Homo sapiens: one gene and its partners. The protein of the gene in region 1 purifies or fractionates together with the protein of each later gene. This does not show direct contact. Each region holds a gene or a part of one and is shown on either strand. Other genes may lie near its edges.

The links. The genes of interacting proteins can lie anywhere in the genome.
Region 2: the proteins of WDR4 (region 1) and ALG12 purify together in Homo sapiens (affinity purification with mass spectrometry; 2 studies listed by BioGRID and IntAct, with this or other methods). This does not show direct contact.
Region 3: the proteins of WDR4 (region 1) and RNF138 purify together in Homo sapiens (affinity purification with mass spectrometry; 2 studies listed by BioGRID and IntAct, with this or other methods). This does not show direct contact.

What each region holds. Positions count from the first base shown.
Region 1 is NC_000021.9:42,855,513-42,862,539, forward strand, and holds part of WDR4 (tRNA (guanine-N(7)-)-methyltransferase non-catalytic subunit WDR4), read right to left. Parts: intron 6,883-7,027; coding exon 6,770-6,882; intron 4,211-6,769; coding exon 4,150-4,210; intron 269-4,149; coding exon 170-268; intron 1-169. UniProt on the Homo sapiens protein: Non-catalytic component of the METTL1-WDR4 methyltransferase complex required for the formation of N(7)-methylguanine in a subset of RNA species, such as tRNAs, mRNAs and microRNAs (miRNAs).
Region 2 is NC_000022.11:49,901,421-49,908,447, forward strand, and holds part of ALG12 (dol-P-Man:Man(7)GlcNAc(2)-PP-Dol alpha-1,6-mannosyltransferase), read right to left. Parts: intron 6,525-7,027; coding exon 6,301-6,524; intron 3,087-6,300; coding exon 2,917-3,086; intron 2,835-2,916; coding exon 2,759-2,834; intron 2,647-2,758; coding exon 2,418-2,646; 3' UTR 1-2,417. UniProt on the Homo sapiens protein: Mannosyltransferase that operates in the biosynthetic pathway of dolichol-linked oligosaccharides, the glycan precursors employed in protein asparagine (N)-glycosylation.
Region 3 is NC_000018.10:32,122,865-32,129,891, reverse strand, and holds part of RNF138 (E3 ubiquitin-protein ligase RNF138), read right to left. Parts: intron 6,375-7,027; coding exon 6,318-6,374; intron 5,159-6,317; coding exon 5,047-5,158; intron 3,200-5,046; coding exon 3,092-3,199; intron 774-3,091; coding exon 705-773; 3' UTR 1-704. UniProt on the Homo sapiens protein: E3 ubiquitin-protein ligase involved in DNA damage response by promoting DNA resection and homologous recombination.

The DNA.
Region 1 (7,027 bases):
ACATGACGAGCCACCTTCAGAATTTGAAATACGAGATTTCCCTCACACAGGAGGAAGTCTGGCATTGAGAGCAAACGTTTCCAACGGCGAAGTGACTTTTCCACTCAAGTCAGGCGACTGCCGGTGTCTACAAGCACTCAGTCGCCCAGGAGTGAACAGAAGCAGCTACCTGGGGGGCCTGGGGGTCCACCAGCTCCTGCAGACTGGCCAGGTGACAGCAGTGCAGCTGGCGGCCGCTCCTGTACTCCCAGAGCCTCAGGGTGCCGTCCTGCACAAACCAAACACACAGGTTAGCACATGGTTGTGGGGCTTCCGTCAGGTAGGGTGACAGAGAGGACAGCTGCGTGTGGTCGGGGTTCCACTCCGTGACAGCCATGCCACCCACCCTCAGGAATTAAAGGCTCTCTGCTCTGACTGTGTAAATCGCTCATGCAAATCATCAAGGACAACGGTGGGGAACGGAAGGTGACCGATTCCCTGTTTCTCGAGTGCCAATATGCCCAGGCAGATGACAAAGCCAATGAGGCAGATCCTAGCAAAATAAGCCAAGGCCGCTAGATGGCCAGGTTGTCATCCGCCAGGAGGCCAGACCACATCTGCTGTGCCCGGGCCGGGCATAGACACGGGCATGCACACAGGTCTGCGCAGACACTTCAGCAATCATGCATTCCCACGGGGAGACACGTGTGGGCTCATGAGCTCGTGGCCACTGCTCCACTTCACTAAGAATGACAGGAAGGACATGGCCATCAGCAACCGTCCCACGACAACTGGTACAACCCTTCAGGAAGCCGACACAGGAACCAAGAGGCTCCACGCTCTAAAACCATCATCAATGGAAAAAAGCGTTTCTCTTTTTTTTCTTGGTTTTATCTGTTGTTATTTTTTTGTTGTTTAATTGAAATGGGGTCTATTCCACACTGCCCACTGCACTGCAGTGGCTATTCACAGGCTTGCTCCTGGCTCACTGCAGCCTCTGACTCCCAGGCCCAGGCAATCCTCCCGCCTCAGCCTCCGAGTAGCTGGGACTACAGGCATGAGCCACCATACCTGGCTTAAAAAAAATTCATTACAGCACTAATTCAGTGGAGAGAAATAAATCAATACTCATTAAATCTAATGAGAGAGTGTCTGTGCACTATTTGTAAGTATTTTTAAATGACTAAATGAAAAAGATGAAAAGTAAATACCCCAAACAGCTAACAGTAGATGCATATCCTCTGGGTGCCGAGGTAAGAGTGGATGTATGAATGCACACACACACGCATGCACATACACACGCACACACACACACCTTTCTACAAATGTGGCAGATAAACATGGAGACCAACACACACATCTACAGGCATTTCACTCACCCCCAAACCTCTCTACGAAGACAAGAAAAAGATGTTTAATAACCATGAACCCACTAAGACAAAGACAACAGGCAAGAAGAGAAGGCAGCCGCGGAGAGACAGCAAGGAAACCTGGGGGCTGGAGGCCAGGGAACAAATGCACCAGCCACAGAGAAGCCCGAGAGGTGCCAGGACCTGCCAAAGACCAAACCGGGCCAGGCAGCCTGAAGACCAAGGTGGTGAGGGGAGCTGTCAAATGTCTTTACAAAGAGAAACGGGACCTCCCTGATGCATCCTCAGCCCCAAACTCCAGGCCAGCAGAAGGCTCTGGGGAAACGGAGCCGAGGGGCCCCTGTCTCGGGGATGCCAAATACTCACTGAGAAGAGAGTCACCTAGCCCCTTCGCACTCACCTCCCAGAGCCCCAGGGGACAGACCTGGGCAAGAGTGAAGGCCGGGACACTGACCACCCAGAAGAGACCGACTGACCCACACGTTCTACGGAGTCCACAGGCAAGGGGCTGCTGCCCACAGACACCTGCTCTGAAGCCCCTCGGGCCCCACCCTGGGTGCACACACCCAGCCTCTGAGGCCGGCTGGTGCTGACTCCCATCACACACAGGCAGATGGCATCGCCAGACATCCGAGGAAAACCTCCAATGAGAAAGGCAGACAACACACTCCAGAGAAGGCAATCAAACACAAGGCCAGGAAGAAATTGAAGAAAGAAAAGTCCACGCTCATCTCAGTGAGATAAGAGACACGTGCACTATCCGAGAATGGGTGGCTGCAAAAAAGAACGTGCCGAGGGCAAGAAAGAACTAAAGATTCAAAATAATCCTAATAAAACTCAAGTCTCCACAGAAGGCTGGAAAGTAAAGTTGAGGCAATCTCCCAAGAAGTAAGACTATTCCTAAAGGAGTAGAAATACGAGATTGAACAGGAAAGAAAAAAAAACAGAGAATTATGGCCCAGCATGGTGGCTCTCGCCTATAATCCCAGTGGGCGGAAGTGGGTGGATCGCTTGAGGTCAAAAGTTTGAGACCAGCCTGGCCAAGCTGGCAAAACCCCATCACTACAAAAGTATAAAAAATTAGCGGGGCATGGTGGTGTGTGCCTGTAATACTAGCTACTCGGGAGGCCTGAGGTGGGAGGATTGCTTGAGCCCGGGAGGCAGAGGCTGCAGTGAACCGAGATCACGCCACTGCACTCCAGACTGGGAGACAGAGCAAGACTCTGTCTCAAAAAAAATAAGAATCAGAGCATTAAAGTGGTTCAACTAACACAAGCTTTAGAAAAAGTGAGCAAGAGGCAGGGGTAGAGAACAGAAGGTAATCATGTAAGAAAATGCCCCAGGTCGGAGGACACTGAAAATCACTGGCTGTGTGGCCAACTCCCCTCTGGGGCCCACCAAGTCACCTCAGTGGCTTTCACATCGCACACTGGAGCAGAGAAAGTCCTCCAGGCAGAAGGAGAGCCCAGCTGTCACCCCACGGACCCACGGCAGACAGCTGCAGGTTTCTACAGGAAGCGCGCGGGAAAACCCACAGGAGCAACCAGCTGGAGAGCACACTGTGCAAGGCCTCCCAAGCTCCGAGGGAAACCGTTTCAACCAGGACTTCTACGCCAAACTAACAACCAGGCCTCAAAGGAGATTAAAGGTATTTCCAGAAAAGCAAAGTCAGAAAACACTGACCCTCCTCGCGCCTTTTGGCAGCTACCAGATGACGTGTTCCACTCAAACAAAGCAGTAAGCCATGAGGGACAGATGGGGCCTGGGGAGGCTTCTCTGCCCGTGGAAGATTTTCCTCATATTATGAAAAAGACTGGAAGGTGCACAACAAACCGCTGACGAAGCCTGACCCTGACCCTGACCCTCTGGAGATTATGGCCACACTTTTCTTCTTCTCTCAGGTCGCGTGGCTGTGTGTTAATTTGAAGAGCAGGAACAGGAGGCTGTGAATGAAGCCCAATCAGAGAAGAAACATAGAAGCGGCCAGAAGGTCCATCAGCCATCCTGCCACACCACACAAAGGACCAACACAGACAACACAGGGAAGGACAGCGAAGAGGAAGGTGGTGGTGTGCGGGCAACAATTCCGCAAGAGGACAGAATCAGACCCTGTGAGGAATCCAAGGCCCTCACTTTGGCAAAATCACTAACAATCCTTCTAACACATTCCTTAGAGAAAACACGTCTCTCATCACTAAACTGTAAGGCTTCCAGGACCCAATTGCTGGGACACAGAAGCTGTACCCAACAAGCAAAAATGCACTGTGGTAACCCGGGTGCGGGCGCTCGAGCCTGTGGTCCCAGCTACTTGGGAGGCCAAGGAGGCAGATCGCTTGAGCCCAGGAGTTTGAAACCAGCCTGAAAAATGTAGCAACACCCCATCTTAAAAAAAAAGAAAGAAAGAAAAAAAGGAAAGAAAAGGAAAAAAAATGCAGCCCGTAATGGGATGGACTGAGACCCCTCCAAGAGTCAGAGAAGCCCCCGTCTACTGTTTCTACCTGAGATCCTGATCCCCGATACCATCGTAGATGCAGCAGCCGCCCTCAGAAGGGAGCCTTCCACACACCCGTGCTAGTTCATCCCACAGGCGAACACACACGCACCTACGCACACCCCACACGCAGTCCTGAGTGAGCGGCCGCAGGCGGGGAGCGAGCCGCAGGCAGCTCTAAGATCTAGTGGACAGCCACAGCCAGCCAGGGGCCAGCGATCCACAGGGGCCAGGTCCAGGAGGCGCCCACCCCACCCTCCCTGCAGGCTCAAGAATCCAGAGGTGAGTGACGCTGGGCAGAACACTTACCCCAGAGGAGGACAGAAGCAGCCCGGGCTGAGTTGGCACCACGGAGATACGGCTCACAAACCTGTGAGGGCGAGAGAGAGCGGCAGAGTCAGCGAGCCCAGCGCCCGCAGGGACCGGGAGGCCTGGGGAGGCCGCCTGTTCATCTAAGGAAGAGAAGCCTCTGCCCTAAACCCCCTGATCCAATAAAAACAGCCAACATGGGAAGTAGCTGTTAACCCTAACCTGGTTAGGGTTAACCAGGTGGAGGCCCCTGGACGCAGTCGGGGAGGTGAGTGAGGTCATTCCTGGGTCCCCAACAGCACAGCAACCTCTAACCCAGGCCGCTCCTCAGCCATGCCTGCCAGAGACCCAAGCGCCTCTGTGCCCCTCTGCAGCCCCCTCTGCAGCAGCTCTGCTCAGCGGCACCTCTACAGGCCCCCCAGCACCCACCCTGGCCCAAGGCACCTGCACTGTGATGAAAGGAGCCTTGGGGGAGACTCAAAGACACGGGGGAGACTCAAAGACACAGCACACAGGGAGGAGGGTGGAGGGAGGAGGGCAGCCAAGCCCACAGGTTCCTATCAGGGTCCTGACGGCCCCTCAGCAACAACTCTGAGTGACCTGGCCAGACAGCTGTCTCTGCTGAGCCCGGCCCAGTCCTCCTGTGAGGGGTTGGCCTGCAAGCACAGGACTCAAAGTCACAGGGACCCTCCCATCAGAACAGCCATGAAGAATAACCCAAGCAGCCCAGCTCGCCTGGAAACCCATCTTGGCTCGGGCACCTACAAGGGTGACAAGGCCCCTTTTCTTCCCACTCTAACACAGTGGCCTCAAGCAATCCCTCATGCACGGGGTTCCCGGGGACCCTGGAATGGGGTGGCCCGTGAGCCTCACTCCATCTCCACCAGTCATGGCCTCTGCTACCTTGGGCTAGCCATCGCGTGAGCCGGGCCCGGTCCCGCAGCCACCGCCCTGCACGGCACCACAGCACCAACAGCAGCCCACAGCCCAGGACAGATAGGGCACAGGACGCCCCGTGCAGAGGGCACGAGTGGCCTCACAGTTCTCAACGGTTTGAAAGGCCGGGAAACCAGTTTCCAGGGGTCTGAAACAAAATCTCAAAACATAATTCGTCCAATCACTGCAGTTATCTACTGAGCACCTACTCATGCCAGGCACCACGCTGAGGGCTGCACACACCAACAGGCCCAACAGACCCACAGAACCACTCAGACGCAGCGGGAGACGGCCAGTGAACCAACTGATACTGCAATGTCAGCAAAGGGCACAGAACAGCACATCCAGCAGAAACACACCTCCAGCCACACACAGGGGCCACGGGGCTTTGTTTTCAATTTGCCAGCCACTATGTTGAAAAGTAAACGGGCAGGCCGGGCACGGTGGCTCACGCCTGTAATCCCAGCACTGTGGGAGGCCGAGGCGGGCGAATCATGAGGTCAGGAGATCAAGACCAGCCTGGCCAACATAGTGAACCCTCGTCTCTACTAAAAATACAAAAAAAAATTAGCCGGGCGTGGTGGCAGGGGCCTGTAGTCCCAGCTACTTGGGAGGCTGAGGCAGGAGAATCGCTTGAACCTGGAAGGCAGAGGTTGCAGTGAGCCAAGATCACGCCACTGCACTCCAGCCTGGGCGACACAGCTAAGAAAGAGAAAAGAAAGGAAGGGAGGGGAAGGGTGGGGTGGGGAGGGGGGAAGGAAGGGAGGGAGGGAGGGAGCAGTTGAAGTTAATTTTAATACTATGTTTTTACTCAATACTTCTAAGTGATGAAGCATTTCCCTAGAAGGGTGAGAAGCGTGTTCCCGTCAGCAGAAACCTCCCTCACGTGCCTGGCGAGGCAAGGGAGCTGCAGAGACCCCAGCGAGAGATGGTGAAGGGGAGGGGCCGGGGGGCTGCAGGCCAGAGAACTCCAGAGCTGGATCACTAGCGAACTAAATGCAAGTCAGAAGAAGCTATCCTGAGGCACACACCAGTGACTGGCCTTCTTAAACAGGAAATGTTTGGATCAAAACCAGGAAAACACAGGCAACCTCGGCACTGAATTTCCTCCCTCCAATTTCTTCCACTGCCTCAAATAATATATTTTAAAACATTTCAGCCAATTACACTAAGCGTTTTTCCTTTGTGTAAATTCTAATGAGCTTTTTGTGTGAGACAGGAGCGGGCATTCAGAAACACCTCCACATGGGTCCTGGCAGAGTGTGCTGCCACGAGAGACGCCGCCACCTGGCTGCAGAGGCCGCTTAATTCTTGGACAGCTGAAATCACTAAAGTTCATCCTCGCCCCCAACACCCCCACCACCCACCAGCGAACAACTCCCGGGCATGGTGCAGGGGTCTCCACACTGAGACAGGGGTTTCCCGGAAACAAGCCCTTCCTGTTCGGTCAGGCCCAATGCCAAGTTACTGGCACAGACTCCGGGTAACAGCGCAGAGTGAACCCCACCCTTTCAGGGCTTCTGCAGGCAGCACCACGGCGCCTGCAGTGACCAAACACCAAGCACGGGGGCTGCTGTCACCCGCGTGGGGCCTCGCCAGCTACAACGGCACCTGCTGAGCCGCAAGCTGACGCTGTTTTCAAACAGACCTTCTTTCTGCTGGAGGGGCAGGAAGGGGCACTCACTCTGTGTGCCCCAAGCAGAAGGACTCGATGCTATGGGGCGCCGCGGCCCAGCTGACTCGGATCTTCTCGTCCCGGTCGGCAGTGAGGATGAAGCGGTCATCAGGACTCACAGCCTGCATCACCAGGGGCCAGAAAAGAAAAAGCCGCTCACCTGAGTCTTCCCGAATCAAGTCCCTCATGGAAGAAGGCAGGGAAGCTGCAGCCTGGCCGCCAAGAGGATGAGGCCTTCGAGGACAGACCAGCGTGGCTCCTCCCCTC
Region 2 (7,027 bases), on another chromosome or scaffold:
CAGGAAGAAATCATGTCTTTATGCACACGTGTGTGCATGTGTGGTATGTATGCATGGTGTGTGCACGTGTGCATTGTGTGCATGATTGCATTGTGTGGTGTGTATGCATGGTGTGTGCACGTGTGCATTGTGTGTGCACGATTGCATTGTGTGGTGTGTATGCATGGTGTGTGCACCTGTGCATTGTGTGTGTGCATGCGTGGTGGGTATGTATGGTGTGTGCACGTGTGATCATGCATGTATGGTGTGTATGCATGGTGTGCGCATCTGTGCATTGTGTGTGGATGCATGTGTGGTGTGTATGCATGGTGTGCACGTGCATTGTGCATGCGTGGTGTATGCATGGTAATGTGCACGTGTGCACTGTGTGTGGTATGTATGCATGGTGTGTGCACGTGTGCACTGTGTGTATGCATGGTGTGTGCACGTGTGCACTGTGTGTGGTGTGTATTCATGGTGTGTGCACGTGTGCACTGTGTGTATGCATGGTAATGTGCACGCATGCACTGTGTGTATGCACGGTAATGTGCACGTGTGCACTGTGTGTGGTGTGTATGCATGGTGTGTGCACGTGTGCACTGTGTATGCATGGTAATGTGCACGCGTGCACTGTGTGTATGCATGGTAACGTACACGTGTGCACTGTGTGTGGTGTGCATGCATGGTGTGTGCACGTGTGCACTGTGTATGCATGGTAATGTGCACGTGTGCACTGTGTGTGGTGTGTATGCATGGTGTGTGCACGTGTGCACTGTGTGTGGTGTGTATGCATGGTGTGTGCACATGTGCACTGTGTGGTGTGTATGCATGGTGTGTGCACGTGTGCACTGTGTATGCATGGTGTGTGCATGTGTGCACTGTATGCATAGTGTGCACGTGTGCACTGTGTGTGGATGCATGGTAATGTGCACGTGTGCACTGTGTGTGGTGTGTATGCATGGTGTGTGCACGTGTGCACGGTGTGTGGTGTGTATGCATGGTGTGTGCACATGTGCACTGTGTATGCATGGTGTGTGCACGTGTGCACTGTGTATGCATGGTGTGTGCACGTGTGCACTGTGTGGTGTGTATGCATGGTGTGTGCACATGTGCACTGTGTATGCATGGTAATGTGCACGCGTGCACTGTGTGTATGCATGGTAATGTGCACGTGTGCACTGTGTGTGGTGTGTATGCATGGTGTGTGCACGTGTGCACTGTGTATGCATGGTAATGTGCACGTGTGCACTGTGTGGTGTGTATGCATGGTGTGTGCACGTGTGCACTGTGTATGCATAGTGTGTGCACGTGTGCACTGTGTGTGGATGCATGGTAATGTGCACGTGTGCACTGTGTGTGGTGTGTATGCATGGTGTGTGCACGTGTGCACGGTGTGTGGTGTGTATGCATGGTGTGTGCACGTGTGCACTGTGTATGCATAGTGTGTGCACGTGTGCACTGTGTGTGGATGCATGGTAATGTGCACGTGTGCACTGTGTGTGGTGTGTATGCATGGTGTGTGCACGTGTGCACGGTGTGTGGTGTGTATGCATGGTGTGTGCACGTGTGCACTGTGTGCATGCGTGTGTGGTGTGTGTGCATGTATGCATGGTGTGTGCATACGTGTGCAGCAGCACCTGGTCCCATCTCCAGTGCCCAGCAGCATCACACGCACTTTGGTGCTTTATAAATGCATGGTCAGTGAGGCTGACAGCACCAAGCTGTCCCTTTACCATAACACCTGGAATAGTCACCTGTGATAAGCTATCACATAGGAAACATTTTTAAAATTTCATTCTCATTATTTTCTGTAATCTTGAGAGGTTCCAATCAACATTTATTGCCTTATTCTTTTTATCTCATTCCTTTTTGAATGTGTTTATCTCCTAAGATTTTATCTGTGATGGAGATGGGATGCCTGTGAATACAAAAGTTGCAGTGGTGGCACCAGGGTGGGGGGGTGCGGCCGGGGCCACCATGGTCTCCCCTGAGAGGGGGTGCTGTCTTAGGTGCCCCAAGAGGCCCTCGGGCAGCAAGCGTGGGGTGCTGCCAAAATACAGCTCCCCCTGGGTGGGCAGGACACACGTGGCCTCCTGGCAGACAGGTGCCTGGGTGAGCCCGCTGCTCCTGATTAGTCATGAATGGCACCTGGTCTGGGCGACAGTCACCCGCAGGAAGCCCTGAGCTGGCCACCATCACCCTGGGCAGTGGCTCCCGGGGTGCCAACAAGACCTGGGCCCCTCGTTCTTTGGTGCTGAGAGCCCCAGCTGAGGCTGTGGAGGAGGCCCTGGACCTGGTCTGGTGTCTGTCAGAGGCAGGTGCCCAGTCCTTTGACTTGCTTCTCTGAATTGTCATAATTGTGCTGGAATTGTGCCAGAAACTGGTAGTGATAACAGCTCCTGGAAGGCCTGTGGCTGCTGAGGGCTGCCTGGTCCCCCTCAGGACGGCCGGGGGAGCCTCTCCAGAAGCACCAGCTTTGTCTGCAGGTGGACGTTGAAGGGGGGCAGTTGGGTCAGGTTCAGACTCACACCTGTGGTCCCCACGACGCTGGCCAGGACCCGGTGTGTGTCCCTGTAGAGGGCCAGGAGCCCAGGGGCCGCCTCCATGAGGATGTGTGTGTATGCCAGCATGCCTGTCCCCGGCTGCACATCCTCCCTCTTGTCGTACCTGTGGGATGAGAGCTGGTGGTCCTGCCCAGGGCCCCCACATCGCCCTGTCCCCCGCCCCCAAGGGGCCCTCACATGGCCTCTGGGAGGGCCGTGCTGTGTGTGGATCCTACCTCCAGGCGCTGTTGACTTGGAGAAACCGAGACACACCTGTCTGGGCGGCTGCCACGTCAATGTGCAGAAGGACGTCTAGGAAAACCAGGCCTGCCGTCAGAGCCCAGCCCTGCAGTCGGAGCCACAGCAGTCCCCAGGCAGTGCCCCCAGCACCCACCTGTCTGGGGGGGCACCAGCTGGTGCAGCCTCTGCATTGCGACGCCACCTGGGTAGTTGAAATGGGACACATACAGGGCCGTGGCTGAGTAGGCGGCATTCACCACGAGGTGTCCGATCACAAGCAGAGACCCCGCTTTGTACAGCCAAGACTTTTTATAGTTATTCAGCCTGAAAAAAGAATGGTTACACATCATAGGCAGAACGTAATGACAATAAAATTAATCTACCTACAAAACATACTAGGAGCATAACCTGCTGTTCAACTTCACCAAGTCATAACAAAGAGTTCACCACCAAATAAAACAGAGTCAGTAACCCGTAAAAGTGGTTAAGATACTGCCTCAAGAATTGTCTGTGAAATTCTACCCAAGATGCCAATTTAAAATTTAGATGAGATTTTAAAATATATATATATTTTTGAGACAGAGTCTCGCTGTGTCACCCAGGCTGGAGTGCAGTGCCATGATCTCGGCTCACTGCAACCTCCGCCTCCTGGGTTCAAGTGATTCTCCTGCCTCAGCCTCCCAAGTAGCTGGGACTACAGGTGCACGCCACCATGCCCATCTAATTTCTGTATTTTTAGTAGAGACAGGCTTTCACTATGTTGGCCAGGCTAGTCTTGAACTCCTGACCTCGTGATCTGCCCGCCTCAGCCTCCCAAAGTGCTGAGATTACAGGCATGAGCCACTGCGCCCAGCCTAAAAATATATTTTCAAACAATCCCAAGTGACTGTGTAGGTCAGAGTGCCACCCGCGCGGCCAAGCCCACTCCCAGCAGGTCTGAGTGAACTCTCTGGGACAGGGTGCCGCCGGTTCTCTCACAATCGACTATGCCAATCTCAGGATCCTACGGCAGAGTTAGCAGCTGCCACAGACAGTGTGGCCCACGAAGATGAGGCTCTTTATTAGCTGGTCCTTAACGGAAAAGCTTGCCAACCCTGGTCTAAACGCCCTGAACCCCCGATCAAGACTCACTCTCTTCCAAACCCACCAGGCTCCTCGGAGCCCTCTTCTCCACAGGCCCTGCCCTTTGCTATGGTTTGGATCTGCGTCCCCACCAAATCTCATGTCCAACTGTGATCCCCAATGCTGGAGGTGGGGCCTGGTGGGAGGTGACTGGGTCATGGAGGTGGAGCCCTCAGGAATGGATTAGCGCCATCCCCTCCATGCTGTTCTCCTCATACCGAGTGAGTTCTCGAGAGGTCTGCTTGTTTGAAAATGGGTGACACCTCCCCCGTCCCTCTTCGTCCTGCTTTGGCCACATAAAAGCGTGCCCGCTTCCCTCTCGCCTTCCGCCATAATGGAAAGTTTTCCCAGGCCAGCCTGGAAGCTGAGCAGACACCAGTACCACGCTTCCCGTACAGCCTGCGGAACCGCGAGCCAATGAAGCCTCCTCTTTATAAATTATCCAGTCTCAGGTGTTTCTTTACATCAGTGCGAGAGCAGACTAGTGCACCCTTGAACAATCTCTGGTGCGGTTTCTGAGCTCGAGGCCCCACCTAGGATGACCGCAGCCTCCTAAGTGCCTGCCCCAAAGAGCTCAGCACTGCCAGGGCGTTCGTCCTTTGTTCCCGCCCAAACCTGGAGTGGGCAGTCACTGTGGAAAGCTCGCAATCAGAAACCTTCCACCCCCAGGACTGTCTCAAGGCCCTGGGCCCTGACACCGTGGGAAACGGCCTGCTCTTGCTCCCAGGGTGGCCGGGCTGAGGACCTGACTTCGGAGGGGGCCTTGCTCTACCCTGCACCCCCTCATTTGGACTCCCCAAGTTTGTCCTCCTCCGGATAAGGCCGACTGGCACAGCAGGGGCCCTTGCATGGAGCAGCCCCTCACGCCCAGCACACCAGGCCTCAAAGACACAGAGCTGGGTCCAGTTCCCACTGGATCTTCTTCCCTGCTGGAAAAGCCTGTCACCGAATACAATCCATCCGCGCCGCTCTCCCCGTCTTTCCTACCCTCTTTTCCATGACTCTGGCTGGGGTCTGCTCCTCCTCCAGCCCTGAGCCGACCCCTGAGACGAGAGGGAGCCAAAGGCACAGAAAAGCAGAGGCAGAGCTCCCAGGAGCCCCCACTGAGGCGCGGCTACAGCAGCCAGAGGAGCCCCCAACCCAGGCACGGCCACGGCAGCCGGAGGAACCCCCAGCGAGGAACAGTCACGGCAGCCAGAGGAGCTCCCAGGCCCGAGGGCAGTGCGGGGCAGTCGGAGCTGGGGGGCACCATCCCCTCCCCTGTAACAAGTGGCACCGGAAAGCACCTGACCGCTGCCTGAGATCAGGGACCGCATTGTGGGGCTTCCTCTCCAGCCAGAGTGGGCACCTCTCAATGCCCCAGGCCGCGGCCCTCCTGGCCTGTAGCCCTGCCGCCCCTCAATGCCCAGCGTGGCCTGAGTTGGCCTCCTGTTCCCATCAAGGCAGCAAACTCTGAACGGGCACAGAGCTGGCCAGCCTCAGCCCTGGGTTCTTCCGCAGCACCCACAGGGCCAGCAGTGATGGACTCTCCTGGGCCTGAGCCCCGGGTCCTTCCCCAGCACCCACAGGGCCCGGCAGTGATGGACTCTCCTGGCTCCCTGAGGCTTGCAACACTGAGTGGCAGCCGCGCTCAGACCACCCCACCCTCAGCCCAGGCAGTGCCCTCCCCAGGCCCTGCCAGGCCCCCAGCTCCACCTCCATCACCTGCTGCCTGCAGTCCCTCCCCGCAGGAAGCCCCCTGCCCTCCACAGGACCTTGAGCCTGGGCCACGCTGGGCCCTCTGCACCCAGCCATAGGCACCTCCCTCACCATCCCCCTCTTCCAGCCAGATGACCCGCCTTGACAAACGCCCTCAAGCCCGAGGCCCTGTCAGGATGGCCACGAACGCCCTTCCTCTACCTGACCTGTCGCCCTCAGAGCCTCCCAGGCCTGGCTGCCCCTGCCCTCTGCCGCTGCTACCTATGTGAGTGTCACTCTCCCATGACAGAGACTGGGACCGCTGGTGCATCACCATATGTGGACCAGTCACCAAATTAACCCAAGACAGAGACCACCTGAGCAAAGCCCTCTGTCAGCACAATGCCAGGCCGGTCCCATCCCATGCAGCCCTCAGGGAGGAGAGAGGACTGGGGTCACCCTCCTTTGACATAAGCGCCTAGTTCAACACACCCTGTGTTTATCTTAAAAAACAGCCCTGGTGGCTCACACCTGCAATCCCAGCACTTCCAGAGGAGGAGGCAGGAGGATGGCTTAACCCCCTAGGAGTTGAGGGGTGCAGTAAGCCCCACTCCAGCTGGGCGACAGAGCAAGACCCTGTTTCAAAAATTAAACACACACATACATCCCCCCAACAGTAAATCAGTGAACCTGTTTCCAATGAAACTATAAAAATGCATGTCACAAAAAGAGCACTCACAGGTAGGAGCAGCCTCTGGCAGCCGTGATGTTGAGCATGGGGAAGGCATAGATGATGAAGCGTAGCTCCTTGTGTGGCAGGAGGGAGTAGAGTGCCATGAAGCCCAGTGCCAGCACCGTCGGCGCGTGCGTCCTTCTGTCTACCAAGCCCAGGGGGATGAAGAGCAGGCTGCAGCCCAGGCCGCGGGGCAGGGCTGAGTAGAAGTACCACAGCAGCGGGGAGGTCTGCGGGCTGGGTTAAGGAGGCCACGCACCTGTCCACGCATGAGCCCGTGGGCTAGGTGGCAGGGTCAAGGTGGAGAAGACGCTTGAAGACAGTTGTGCTGAGAGATGCAGCCTGGACCACGGCTCGTGTGCACAGACACCACTCAGGCCTCAGGCCCCTCCTAAAAGACAGAGCCCAGGCCACAGCTCGGGTGCACACATACCACTTGGGCGTCGGGCCCCCTCCAGGCAGGACCAAGGCAGCAAGGGCCACAGGACGTTCGGTCTCTGTACCCTTTTCTTCACTGTTAAAAACAGATGGTCGGCCGGGCGCAGTGGCTCATGTCTGTAATCCCAGCACTTCGGGAGGCCAAGGTGGGTAGATCACGAGGTAAAGAGATCGAGACCATCCTGGCCAACATGGTGAAACCCTGTCTCTACTACAAATACAAAAATTAGCTGGGCATGGTGGCATGTGCCTGTAATCCCAGCTACTCAGGAGGCTGAGGCAGGAGAATCACTTG
Region 3 (7,027 bases), on another chromosome or scaffold:
TTACAAATCAGTCAAAGACTGAAATTATCAAATGCCCATGAAAGAAAGAAATTTTTCTCTTTGTATTTCCTTCTAATAACAAAAAGAAAATATCTTTACAACAAGCTTTCACTTTTTAAAGAATTAAAATTATTACAGAAATCTCACTAGTCTTCAAAAATAGTAAATGTTATATAAATACAATTTTCTTATAGTTGAATTTTTCAGCTAGAACCTGCATTTAAAAAATTTCCTTTGGATTATTCCATTTAGCACTTCAAGTTTCTATTCTGCAACTCTAATAATAACTGGCTCAGATTTGTTAGGTTATATCAATCACATCGTTCAAAATTTGCTACTGTGTGTTAAATGTGTACAATAATAAAGTAAATGGGAGGAATGCATCAAATTTCAAAAGCAACATAATAATGAAAAATTCAAAAATAATATTACAAAAAGATAAAGTACAACAGGGATTCTCTTTCACCGTTACATTAGTGAAACATCTTTTTTACACCTTTAAAGCTAATGTCATAACTTTCATTTTTTAACTTATCAAGATGATGAAGTTTTTAGAAGCCCTACCTTTATTTTCAATCAAAAACTAAAATGACTGAATTACTTTTATTAATATACACATCAAGTTACTGTAACGGTGACTTCATGTAGTTTCCCCCTTAAAGATGGCACTTGCAGGTACAAAGATGCAGAGATGTCTACAGCCTTCAGATGTTTACTTGAAAAGATTCTTCAACAGCAGTTTGGTATTGGGTTTCTTCATCTAGCTGAAGATTCTAAAAACAATAACATTCATGTCAACAGGAAAAACATATTCAACTACTCTAATACTTTGCCCAAAACATTAGACATCTTGATACACATTACACATCTTGACACACATTACACACACTCAGGACAGTTATGTAAAACATATATAACAGTATCTTTTAAGATACAAGATTTGAATACCTGAACTTTAATAAGACATTAAGTTCAGTTGTAACTGTTCAAGAATAACAAACAAACAGAGAGGATCATCACAGAACAAAATTTGAGTGTTATAATGCCTTTATAAGTCATTCATAAAAAATATGGTTAACTGGAAAGCTGGGTAAGCATGCGCCTGTAGTTGCAACTATTCAGGAGGCTGAGGCAGAAGACAGTTTGAGCCTATGAGTTTGAGGTCAGCCTGGGCAACACAGGGAGACTGTCACTTTAAAAAATAAAAATAAAAAATGAAAAATAAAACTGAAGTTAATCATAACACACAATCATAAATGTGTCATCTCTAGAAAATAATGCCAAATATCTGACAGTAAACTGATTTTAAGAAAACAAGCATTTATTGAATTATGAGTTGAGTAAGAAATTTTTTGGGGGGCAGTTTGGCTCTGTCACTCAGGCTGGAGTGCAGTGGCACAATCTTGGCTCACTGCAACCTCCACCTCCTGGGCTCAAGCAATTCTTGTGCCTCAGCCTGCCAAGTAGCTAGGATTACAGATACGTACCACCACACCCAGCTAATTTTTGTATCTTTAGTAGAGACAGGGTTTTGCCATGTTGGCCAGGCTGGTCTTGAACTGCTGACCTCAGGTGATCCACCCGCCTCGGCCTCCCACAGTACTGGGATGACAGGCATGAGCCATCATGCCCAGATGAGTAATAAATTCTTAACCATAACATGAAGCCTACAGCTTATTCAATCGTTATAAAACTACTCCTTAATTTAAAAAATTATATTTGCTATCAATTTTATGCCCTATGCATTTCGCTTTAAAATCAAGGCCTCTATTTGACAATCTGAAATAATTAGATCACCTACTTTTCTTTTTTGAGACGGAGTCTCGCACTGTCACCCAGGCTGGAGTGCAGTGGCGTGATCTTCACGCACTGCAAGCTCTGCCTCCCGGGTTCATCCCATTCTCCTGCCTCAGCCTCCCGAGTAGCTGGGACTATAGGCACCTGCCAACACACCCGGCTAACTTTTTGTATTTTTAGTAAAGACGGGGTTTCACCGTGTTAGCCAGGATGGTCTCAATCTCCTGACCTTGTGATCCACCCACCTCGGCCTCCCAAAGTGCTGGGATTACAGGTGTGAGCCACCAAGCCCTGCCTAGATTACCTACTTTTCTATGGCAAGATAAAACAACTTGACAATTAGATCAAAAGTGGTTCACAAATTTTTGTATTTCCAAATACATTACATAGCAATCTTTCTTACAATGAGAATTTAATAATAATCTAGAATTACTTTATAAAATTGCTAAAGCAATAAAGCGCACCTAAATTTTACATATATTTGAATTTTTATTTTGAAATTGGCTAAATAATGCAAATTCTACAAAATTTAAAAACCATTTAACAAGAATGATGTAATTTCAACACTGGAAGGCAGACAAAAATGTATATTTTGTTCATGTCACTCTGCTTACCTAAACTGGAAAACAAATAGCCATTCTTTGTCAGGACTAATCTTAAATAAAGTTTTGATTAAACTGAAGTTGAATAAAATGCAATTTAATAATTAATAAAACAGGTTTTCACCTAATTAAAAAAGTATATCACACATTTAGAAGTACAAATTAATCCATTTTGCTTTATGAATTCATTTTTACATTATATAACTTCTCTTACACTCTTAGTCTCTTTGTAACCTGGCTTTGCCTGATAACTAAGCTCCCTCATTTTTAAAAACGTTGTGTCTTACATGCTAGATTTGAGAAATCTAAGATTTCTAGCATAATACAAGCAACTTATACTACATGAGAAATACATCCTCCATATGTTGTACCAATTTTACTTCTCTTGTAGGTACAATTTTCCCTTAAATCTTGACAGAGTTTTCATGTAAATCATCATTTTGTTAATCTGGGTGCTTGCTGTTACTCTTATTAATTCTCTCTCTAGTACAGGAGGTGGAGAGTAAACTCAATTTTTACCTTACCATTTCTACAAGCTAAAGTTCACCAGTATTATTAAAAACCTAAGAACTTGCTCTAAATCCATCCAGTAAGATACAACAGCTTGCCACAAAATTTAAGTCGATTACAAAAAAGTTATTTTAACTTTAATATTTAAACAGTACTTTCTTAATCTTGAAGAATTCACTTACCACAAATTCTCCATAATCAAATTGATGTCTCTGATTTAGATGACTAACGAAATTTCTGGTAATCTGGCTAGGATCTCCCCAAGGAAGAGACACACAAATAGGACATGTCTATAAGAAACAGATTGTTTTAAACAAAAAATAATAAAAACAATGAAATATTATACAATTGACAGTATTAAAATAACACAGGGATATGTTACCAAAAATATCTACGTGAGAAGCATTTTTAAAGGCCAAGTTCCATGACTAGATCATTTCCCAATCAATTACCTTAGATAAATGACATTAATCTAACACAGTGAGAAATCTTAGACATTCTATTCCTTAAATCTCTTATTACACAAATGTTTCAACAGAAAAACCACATCTAGCTTTTAATAATACCAACTGTAATGACAGTTATCACTAACTGGCTGCCTGCAACATATCCAATATATTATCTCATTTGATCCATACAATAACCATATAATTATTATTAGTTTTATTTCATTTGTAAGTAAAATAAAAATGAAGTAAACTGGAAAATTTACTTTAAATTGTATCCTTAGTTTTTCTTTTCTTTTCTTAAAACTAGAGACACAGTCTCACTGTTGTCCAGGCTGGGTCTCAAATTCCTGAGCTCAAGCAATCCTCCCGCCTTGGCCTCCCAAAGTGCTGGGATTAAAGGCATGTGCCACCACACCCAGCCATATCCTTACGTTTAAATGAAGTACATCTTAAAAACTGAATGGATAAATAACTGAAATAACACACAAAAAACCTTCAGTAATTAAACTCTAGCCAAAGTTTATGATATATCGAATATTATGCAGAAATGAATAAAAATTTGGTAATCCAATATAAAACTAAGTAAAATCTTAAATATGAGCGAGATTTCCTGGAACATCTTTGGCACTGTATTTGTCTATTTAAGCATAACTGAACCCATTCTAATAAGCAAAGTAGGTAGTACACCTTCTTAGGTGGTATGTGAGAGCTTAAGGTCATCCTCAATGGTTATTGAAGCATATTCTTTTTATTTTCTTTATTTTTAAATAGACAGGGTCTCACTATGTTGCCCAGGCTAGTCTCGAACTCCTGGGCTCAAGCAATCCTCCCCTCTCGGCCTCCCAAAGTGCTAAATTACAGGCATGAGCCACCGTGCCCGGTCCTGAAGCACATTCTTTCACAACTTTTCCTAGCATACTCACTAAAACAGCTTAGAAATATCTACAGTTCTTATTGATAACATTTTCCTTCCTATTCTCCTTTCTGAAGACAATTATTTATATATCAAAATGTTCAGCTGAAAGGGAAATCTCTCTCCCAGCTCAGTTTCTCCTGTTCCATTCACAGCTGAAATAACTTACCTATGAAACACTTCTAGGATCATTATATGTTGGAATCCTGAATTCTGCTCTATCTCCCTCATTATCAAAAAGCTCTCACCATTTTCTTACATACCCTCAAAATGTCAAAAAATATGTAGGCATCAAATACAAAGTCTAAGTCTTTTCCTTCCTTGCTTTATGCATTCACATACTATATGCTGCAAGAAAACAATAAAAATACCTACTGACTTTATTCTTACTTACAGGTATTTTCACCTACAGCAATCTACCTGACTAGATCTACTTGTCTGCCATCTACAGAGCAAGTAACTGAGGCCTCAATAGACAGGTTGTGCTACTGCGCAGGAATGAGTTCCCGGTTCATCTTTCATTACTTCACTCTTCTCCAGACTGTGCTATATTACCTCACACTATGCATCTCCCTTTTTATAATGAGAGTTACTGCAATTTTAAATATCTCATTTTGCTTCACAGTCATCAATCCTTTGTTGACAAAAATCTACCTTACTGATAATGCCCCAACCAAATATAAATCAACTACTTTCTCTTGCATACATGAAGTGAAATAAATAGAACAGCATGTTTTATTCTAAGCAGAAGACTGTCTCAAACGTATGTACTTACCACAGGAACTATCTGAAATAGGTGATTACTGTTACAGTGATCCAGTAAACGCTGTCTGGTAAAATTTGATTCTTGACACAGGGGACACTTAAAAGTAGGATGACCAGAAGAACTATAAAACAATTTTAAGTGAAACATACTTAATTCAGAATAACACAAAAATAACGCTCTCCTATTTTTTGAGGAATCACTATACATTTTTTAAAAAAGTTATAATTATTAGACTATTCAAAGATTCTCTCATTTTGAACATATGTATTCAGGAAATGATGCATTACAGAGGTTCCCAATCTCAGTTTACAGTACTCTTAGTGTCCTCAATAAATTTTTTCATGGCACCTCTAGGCCAAAACAAAAACAAAAACAAAAACCTAGCTGACTCCATATATTATGTAGTTAGGTCCAAACTTAATTGTAGTTGTTTTCTGATGCCAATAGCTGTCACTGTATGTCCCTTGAAAATTTTTAATATTCTGTAGTATTCCACATTTTGCAAACCTTTTATCTAGGAACTTAAAACTTCTAAAAGACTTCCATCAATATCGTATCTCTAATAAATACCAGGCCCTAGGAATCCAACATCCAAAATTCAAAGGAAAAGAAAAAACAAAAGCACTGATCATGAGAATGAAATACTCGAAAACATTCTGAGGATCAAGCATCACTGAGTTTTAATACTTCTGAATTTCAGGAAGGGACAGTTCAACACAGACAACTTTACCTGAATCGTGTGTGGAAGAAACCTGACCACAGTGAAAGAGAATAACTAAACTCTTCTAACCTAATGTGATTCTTAAAAGCAGTAACTGCATTTTCTATTTCTAAACTGCTAACTTCAAACACTATGCCTAATGATGTAACTGATTTTTTTTTTTTTTTTAAGTTTAATTTATGGCCAGGCGCAGTGGCTCATGCCTGTAATCCCAGCACTTTGGGAGGCCAAGGCAGGTGGATTATCTGAGGTCAGGAGTTCGAGACCAGCCTGGCCAACATGGTGAAACCCTGTTTCTACTAAAAATACAAAAATTAGCCGGGCGTGGTGGCAGGCACCTGTAATACCAGATACTTGGGAGGCTGAGGCAGGAGAATCACTTGAACCTGAGAGGCGCAGGTTGCAGTGAGCCAAGATCGCACCACTGCACTCCAGCCTGGGAAAACAAAGTGAGACTCCGTCTCAAAAAAAAAAAAAAAAAGTTTAATTTAAAAAGCTATTTGATAAGTGATAAATATAATATTACTTGCTAAAGTGGCAGGATTTTTCAAAAGCTTACCTTGTATTCTCTTGGTAAGTTTCTGTGTTATCAGATGTGGATGTTTCACTCCTATTGCTTAAGAAGCACAGGGGAAAAAGTTAATACCTCAAAGTAATGAAAACACACTAAAGGTTCATTATCTTGAACCATTAATGAAGAAGACTAGTCTGAATTTGTTTTAAAAGTCTGAACTTCAATACACCTTTTTCCTATTGGGTCCTTGAAAAAACAAAATTTGAACTTCAAATGGTTCTGAACTATGAAATAATTACAATATTAATTACTTTTAAATAAATTGACTGCTTACTAGATTCTTATTTATGTTCTTTAAAATTAACTTATGCACAGTTACAGAAGTATAGAGAATTTTGCAGAATTACCTTAAATCCCATTCCTCTACCTTTACCTAGACTAGTAAGGTTTTAAATGCTACGGTAGACTCAAGAATTTGTGAACTTTTTTACTTCAAACTAGGACATGGTATAAGGTTATGCCCTCCAAAGTGCAGTAATTTAAGAAAATATGTAAATGTTCATTATGTTTGTATTTTATTTCCAGAAAGGAAAGAAACCAGGCTTCACTAACATTTAATATACAGAACAACTTAACATCTCCACTTTTACCATATGCCAGAGAGTCATGTGTCACATGGAATATCAGAGGAATCCTGAGGGAAGAGTAAGTATTCCATACAGGGACCGTCACCTGTGTGCTACAGAATTTGATCA